Homo sapiens: one gene and its partner. Changing the gene in region 1 together with any one later gene gives a genetic interaction. Each region holds a gene or a part of one and is shown on either strand. Other genes may lie near its edges. The genes, in order: ITGB7 and MAP2K7.

Region 1 (3,521 bases):
AGGGCCCCAACTTGCCCTCCCAGTTGTTGACAGGCCTAGCCAGGCCACAGGTTCGTTCCTGCATCTCTCCCTAGACACCCATCTTCTAGGTCAGAGCTGGAGAGGACTCAAGAGACTATCCGTTTTACAGGCCTGAGACCCAGCGTCTGGAGAGACTGTGCTCAGGCACTCTCTGGGCCTGGACAGCTGCCCTGGGCCTACCAACCTGGAACCTGCCCTGATGCAAGTCTCCCTGGACAAGACCTAGATGCCACTGTCCCTGGCTCCACATTCTGTGCCAACTCTCCTCTATTCAAATTTCCTTCCTTTGCCTCATGCTGCTACCATATCCTATACCCGGGCCTTCTTCCGCCTTCTGGAAGTTCCCATTTGCCCAGGAAGTTGTGTCCTCCTCTTAATGTCTTCTACCTGCCACTTCCCTGAGCCAGTGGTCTCACTGCTTTGCTTGCCAGTTACCAGGTCCCTGCCCCCTAGGTGCACCCTCTCCCATCACCGTCCTCCCCACCCCACTTCCCATAGAGCGCTCTCATGGGTCCTCTGTTGCTGCCCTGCGACTTCTGGCACAACCTTCATTCCTCTCCTCTCCCAGGTTTTGGTTCCTTTGTGGACAAAACGGTGCTGCCCTTTGTGAGCACAGTACCCTCCAAACTGCGCCACCCCTGCCCCACCCGGCTGGAGCGCTGCCAGTCACCATTCAGCTTTCACCATGTGCTGTCCCTGACGGGGGACGCACAAGCCTTCGAGCGGGAGGTGGGGCGCCAGAGTGTGTCCGGCAATCTGGACTCGCCTGAAGGTGGCTTCGATGCCATTCTGCAGGCTGCACTCTGCCAGGTGAGGAGGTGGGGCGGGGATCTGAGCCTGGAGGTCTGTTTGGGAACAGGACTGCCCCTTATGGTTGTGTAGTGCACAGTTCTAGGGGGTGCCATTCATACCATAGTTGCTGTAGTTTGTATATTTAGCAATTACCTGGTGGGTTGGAGTAAAATATCTTGAGGAGGAGGCATGTTTTTCGAATTCACAAGTAAGCCTCCACTAGCAGCAGCCTTCTTTAGGGGGCTGGAGAGAGCAGGGAGAAGCAAGGTACTGGAGGCAAGGGGATGGACAAGCTGACTCAGAGTGAGGCTGGCCACATTCTTGGCTCACAGAGCTGGCTGGGGTGGCTCAAGGGCCATGCCCAGGTGCATAGCCTACCACCCCCACTGTAACTCAGGAGCAGATTGGCTGGAGAAATGTGTCCCGGCTGCTGGTGTTCACTTCAGACGACACATTCCATACAGCTGGGGACGGGAAGTTGGGCGGCATTTTCATGCCCAGTGATGGGCACTGCCACTTGGACAGCAATGGCCTCTACAGTCGCAGCACAGAGTTTGTGAGTCCCTATTGTCACCCTGCCTCTCCCCATTTCAGCCACACCTCTTTCCTTCCAGGACTCCCACTCCCAGCCTTACAGTCCTCACCAGTAACCACCCTGTAGACACCCTGCCATCTTCTCCAGCAGTTCCTCCTTTCAGCTGCCGAGACAGGACACCTTTGTCACCCCATTCCCTACCTCCTTCCTATTCCATAGCAAGCCTCCAGGGCTCCTCCAGCTGGTGGAACCTTGGTTCCTGGATTCCCTGGGCTGAGGGCACCTTGCATGTTGTGGGGGAAACCTGTGGGGCTCACCTTGTCCCTGCTCCCTGTCCCAGGACTACCCTTCTGTGGGTCAGGTAGCCCAGGCCCTCTCTGCAGCAAATATCCAGCCCATCTTTGCTGTCACCAGTGCCGCACTGCCTGTCTACCAGGTGAGAGCTGTCTACATGTCAGATCCCCCAGCCCCATCCCAACCTTTCTCAATTCCCCCAAAGATACATTCTCCGTCCCCCATATGCCCTCCTTCCAGACCTCCGGGAGCCCATTTTCCTAGAGCTGTGACCCACCATTTCCCTTAACTCCCCAAAACTCAGGAGCTGAGTAAACTGATTCCTAAGTCTGCAGTTGGGGAGCTGAGTGAGGACTCCAGCAACGTGGTACAGCTCATCATGGATGCTTATAATGTGAGGGGCCAGGGGAAGGGGAGATGGTGAGGGTGGGCACTAGGGAAAGGTGGAAAGGGGCCCTTGGGTGGGGTGGCAGAACTAAGAGGAAATGGTCACTTTTTGGTCTAACATTCCACAGCTCCTACCTATAGTCTGCATGTGGCTGTCATTAACTGTTCAATCTTACATTCATAAATCTTAAAACATCTGACATGCAGACAGCATGGAGCTCTGCTCTGGGCAAGAAAGGAAAGTTTCAATCACTGAGCTTTTATTTCATGCGCCCACCATCCTAGGTGTACATACTGTTTGCTACTTCATTTAACCCTGCCAAAAGCCTTGCTTCATAACTGTTACCATCCCTATTTTACAGATGAGGAAACCCACACAAGGAGGCTAAGTGACTTGTCCAAGGTCACAAAGATAACAAACAGAAGGGCTGGCATTTGTCCCCAGTCAGTCTGTACATAAACAATGTGAGATCTGGAGCCTGCTTTCACTAAGTTTATAAATAATTCAGAGCTATTCTTCACAAGAACCATAGAATTTTACAGGTAGAAGGAACCATAAAAATTCTTAGTGGTTTAGGTCTTACCTCTGCAACTAGGCTGTAGGCTTCTTGATAACAGGGAGCATCTCCTAAACCTATGGCAAGAAAATCTGAGACAGTATCAAATTTCCCAAGATAAACTCTGTAATGAATCTGCCCTTTAGACCTGGCATGCACCCAGGTTATGTGTCCTGATGTGGGGCTTCACAAACATGGTCTCTGTACATTTACAGCACCTGGCCAGCCTGTGACCCTCAGTGGCCCTTGCTGGCAGCTGCACTGAAATGCTGTATTAGAGGCCTCTGGATCCTGTATGTTCTATGCAAGGTTCTCACGGGTCCTCCCTCCAGAAATGCCTCGACTGGGCAGAATGGAAGGAGCCCCAGGTGGCAGAGGGCAGGGTGCTGGCAGAATTGGGAACACCTGGAGAGGACATAAGGTGGGGTTGGAGTCCTTTTCTGCCTTCACGTGGTTATCCACTCGCTCTCTTCCCATAGAGCCTGTCTTCCACCGTGACCCTTGAACACTCTTCACTCCCTCCTGGGGTCCACATTTCTTACGAATCCCAGTGTGAGGGTCCTGAGAAGAGGGAGGGTAAGGCTGAGGATCGAGGACAGTGCAACCACGTCCGAATCAACCAGACGGTGAGAGCCAGCAAGCACAGGCAGAAGGCGGGCAGGGGGAGGTGGGAGTGGGAAATTAAGCAGGCAGGAAAAGATGGGTGGCAGGTACAGGGAGTGACATGAGAGCCTGAGGTAGTCCTCCATCCATCCTTCCTGGAGCAGTCTGAGTGGCTTCCTCAGGCATGTTTCTAGGAGTTGGGTGTTAACATGACCCCATCCCTTCATTTACTAAGGGGTGAGGTTCTGGATGATTGGTGAGTTTGGGGTATGTGTGTGTGCATGTGTATAACCATGGCCTGATTCCTGCCTCTTCTCAGGTGACTTTCTGGG
Region 2 (3,807 bases), on another chromosome or scaffold:
TAGCCGCCAAGGCTCACCTTAACGGCAATGACGTGGCCGGTCTTCCGGAAGCGCATCTTCCACACCTGGCCGCAGGTGCCGCTGCCCATCTCGCCCAAGTTCTCCAGGTCGTTGATTTCTGCCTGGTAGCGCTGGGAGGAGAGGGAGGGTTGGAGGGTCCCTGGGGCCTCTGCCACCGCCCCCTGCCCCCCACTGGCGCTCCCAGGATGGGTCCAGCCTGGCTGGGCCTCCTCCCTCTCCCCGCCACAGTGAAGGTGGTACCTGGCCCCCGATGGTCAGGTAGCCCGTCTGCTTCATGATCTCCTGCAGCTTCTGGTCAATCTCAATGCTGGGGACATGGAGCAGGTGCCGGTGGAGGTGGGTCCTGACCTTAGGTTGGCCACCCCAGTCCCCCATACCGGGGTTCCCACCGGTTTAACCACCCTCCTCCCAGGGCTGGCACGGTGGCCCCTCAATGCTGCTTCCCACCCAACCCTGCTGGGCCCCTGGCTCACCTCTCCATGCTGCGGGGTGTGAACAGGGTTGACGGGAGCCCCAGCATGTGGCGGGGCCGGGCGGGGGGCGTGGGGTGCTGCGGGGAGCTCTCTGAGGATGGCGAGCGGCTGCCCCCATCGTTGGCCAGCGGGAGCTGCAGGGCTAGGGGGGTGAGAACCAGTGGCAGGGAGGGGGGTCAGCGCCCAGCTGGTGTCAGCTCCACATCTGGCACTCCAGGGAGGGGTCGGGACCCTCACCTTCCCCTCCTGGGTTTCCCGAGCTAGGCTGGCACAGCCCCCTGCCCTGCTGGGCTGGAGGAGCTGGGGTCTCCCTCCCACCCCAGACTGTTCTCAGGGTCCCTTGTCTCATCCCCTGACCTGGAAAGAGATGGAGGAGGCTAGCAGGGGAGAGGGAGCCCCAAGTCTACGCTGACGGAGAAACGAGATGGGGACCTGAGGTGTCCCTCGGCCAGGGGGCCTCCCTGACAGGTGTGTGCACTTCCTCCCACTTCTGCCCAGGAAGCAGGCCCAGGGCCACAGCACCCACAGGATGGATAGGCCAGGGCGGAGTGCCTGCCAGGGCTGGCCCAGGCTGTGGCTCTGCTGGTAGCACTGAAGTTGGCTCCCAGACAAGAGCGAGCAGGGCCACGCTGGGGAGGCAGCGGGCACGAGACCCAGGCTTCAGGCTGCCTTGCCCTATCTTCTGTTCCGGGGTCAGGGAGGGCCCCCCTCGGGCCAGTGGGCTGACATGAGGGCCTCCTGGCCTGGCCTGCAGAGCTGGGGCCCATGGGGGCAGGACAGGACCTCAGGGGGCCTGCATCCTCTGGGAGGAGAGCTCGGGGGCACAGCTCCTGCAGGGGCTGGCGGGACCAGGTGGGGCCAATGCTGGGCCAGGCGGGGGTTGGCTCATCCAGCAGCCTGCATGCGGGCAGCTCGGGCATGCTACAGCGGGTGGGCAGGCGGCGGGCAGGCAGCAGGCACCCTGGGGTGGGCAGGCGGCATTAGGGGTGGGAGGGCAGGAGACAGACAGACAGACAGGAACCAAGACTAGGGCCCAGGTGCCCAGAGGAGGCGCTGCAGAGACAGGCCAGAGAGGGGCCTGGGACAGGAGGGCAGCTTCCCGGAGGAGCTAGGGTCTCCCTGGCTGGGCTGGCAACAGGGTGCAGGAACAGAGGCCGGGATGCTAACGTGGCCTCCAGAGGAGCCAATCCTGACACGTCACATCCTAGAGGCCCTGACAACGGCTACACACACCTACCAAGGTGCCCCTCCCACAGGAGCTGGGGCCTGCCGCTCTCCAAAGCCCTCAGCCAACAAGCCCCTCTCCCCTCTTTTCCTCCTGCCTCGTCCACCTTTTCTCCCCACAGTTCTGCAGGCTCCTGGTGACTGGTGCCCAGGGACTAATATGAACAGACAAACCCGCTCCATGCTGGCAGCTAAACCCCGTCCCTCCCGTGTGCCCAGGACCCTGATCTCAGCCAGTAGGAGGGGCAGGAAGACGCCTCAGTCCCAATGCAGGAGGCCCAGCATTGCCCCTATCTGGTCCTGCCAGCCCCTGCAGGAGCTGTGCCCCCTAGCTCCCCTCCTGGAGGACCAGGCAGGAGCAGGGGAAGGGCTCTGGGGACCTTGGGACACAGCCAGGCCCAGCGTTCATGACTGGCCTAGAGGCCTCACCTCCCGTGCCCCTCCCGCTGTCCTGGCCACTGCCGCCTCTGCAGCACCACGTCACCTCCCACTGTTTTTTTTTTTTTTTGAGATAGGTTCTCGCTCTGTCACCCAGGCTGGAGTGCAGTGGCGTGATCTCAACTCACTGCAACATCCCCCTCCCAGGTTCAAGTGATTCTCCTGCCTCAGCCTCCTGAGTAGCTGGGATTATAGGTACACGCCACCACACCCAGCTAATTTTTGTCTTTTGAGTAGAGATGGGGTCTCGCTATGTTGGCCAGGCTTCTCCCTCTGCTTCTTCAGGTCCCTGCGCCTCTGCTCTGTCCATGGCCTGAGCCACAGCCCCAGTCCCCTTCTGGCTCCCGAGGGCCTGTGCTCCCCCCAACCCAGCCCCCAACCCCTGTGCACCTGGCATCTCTTGAGACACTGCCTAGTTCCCGCCCTCAGAGAGTATCCGAGTCCCGCTCACACCCTGCACTCAGCGGTTGACGACCACAGCCCTCGAGGAGTCCTGTGGGCCCCTTCCCTGACAGAGCCCACCAGGCCTTCCGAGGGTGGCCCCGGAGCCTGGGGAGGAGGCTGCCGGACCACAGACTGGAGCATGGGGGGATGGAAGGGAGGGTTCAGGTAGGCACTGGGGGAAGGAGGTACACAAAGGCCCTGAGAACAGAGGCCACAGAGGTGGTGATGGCCACATGGCAGCTCAGGAGGGTGGAGTGAGAGCAAGAGGGTGAGGATGAGAAAGAGAACGGATGAGAGAGAGCGAGAGGCTGGAGGGCACGTGTCTGCCGACAGGAGCCACAGGTGCACCGGCTGCCATGTCAACATGCACGCACATGCCGTGCAAGTGCACGCACGCACAACACACACCCGGGGCATGCCGTGGACCTAACACCCATGCAGCCGGGACAGAGTCCCCCTTGCCCTCGGACACACATACTCACAACCACTCACAGGGCCAGGCACCCCATCTACTCTCTCTCCCAACACAGGCGTGGGGCACAGCCTGCATGCCCCACACAGGCTGGCGCTGCGCTCAGAGCCCTGGCGGCCCTGTCTTCTCTCCCCCCCCAACTCCTTCAAGACGCTTTTTAAATTTTTTTTTTTTTTGAGACGGAGTCTTGCTCTGTTGCCCAGGCTGGAATGCAGTGGCGCGATCTCAGCTCACTGCAACCTCCACCTAATCTTTTATGTTTTTTTTTTTTTTGAGATGGAGTTTTGCTCTTGTTGCCCAGGCTGAAGTGCAATGGTGCGATCTCAGCTCACTGCAATCTCCGCCTCCCGGGTTCAAGCGGTTCTCCTGCCTCAGCCTCCCGAGTAGCTAGGATTACAGCCTCCCGAGTAGCTGGGATTACAGGTATGTGCCACCATGCCCGGCTAATTTTGTATTTTTAGTGGAGACGGGGTTTCTCTATGTTGGTCAGGGTGGTCTCGAACTCCCGACCTCAGGTGAGCCACCCGCCTCGGTCTCCCAAAGTGCTGGAATTACAGGTGTGAGTCACTGTGCCTGGCCTAATCTCTAGTATTTTTAATGCAGACAGGGTTTCACCATGTTGGCCAGGCTGGTCTCGAACTCCTGACCTCAAGTGATCCACCCTCCTTGGCCTCCCAAAGTACTGAAATTACAGGCATGAGCCACTGCGCCTGGCCCAGTTTTTAAATTTTTGAG

The links.
Region 2: changes in ITGB7 (region 1) and MAP2K7 together harm fitness more than expected from each alone (negative genetic interaction), as found in Homo sapiens cells (one large-scale study listed by BioGRID).

The regions. Positions count from the first base shown.
Region 1 is NC_000012.12:53,193,889-53,197,409, reverse strand, and holds part of ITGB7 (integrin beta-7 isoform a precursor), read left to right. Parts: intron 1-589; coding exon 590-831; intron 832-1,210; coding exon 1,211-1,369; intron 1,370-1,688; coding exon 1,689-1,784; intron 1,785-1,946; coding exon 1,947-2,036; intron 2,037-2,267; exon of another isoform or gene 2,268-3,065; coding exon 3,066-3,212; exon of another isoform or gene 3,213-3,508; coding exon 3,509-3,521. UniProt on the Homo sapiens protein: Integrin ITGA4/ITGB7 (alpha-4/beta-7) (Peyer patches-specific homing receptor LPAM-1) is an adhesion molecule that mediates lymphocyte migration and homing to gut-associated lymphoid tissue (GALT).
Region 2 is NC_000019.10:7,906,584-7,910,390, reverse strand, and holds part of MAP2K7 (dual specificity mitogen-activated protein kinase kinase 7), read right to left. Parts: intron 637-3,807; coding exon 495-636; intron 329-494; coding exon 262-328; intron 132-261; coding exon 18-131; intron 1-17. UniProt on the Homo sapiens protein: Dual specificity protein kinase which acts as an essential component of the MAP kinase signal transduction pathway. Essential component of the stress-activated protein kinase/c-Jun N-terminal kinase (SAP/JNK) signaling pathway.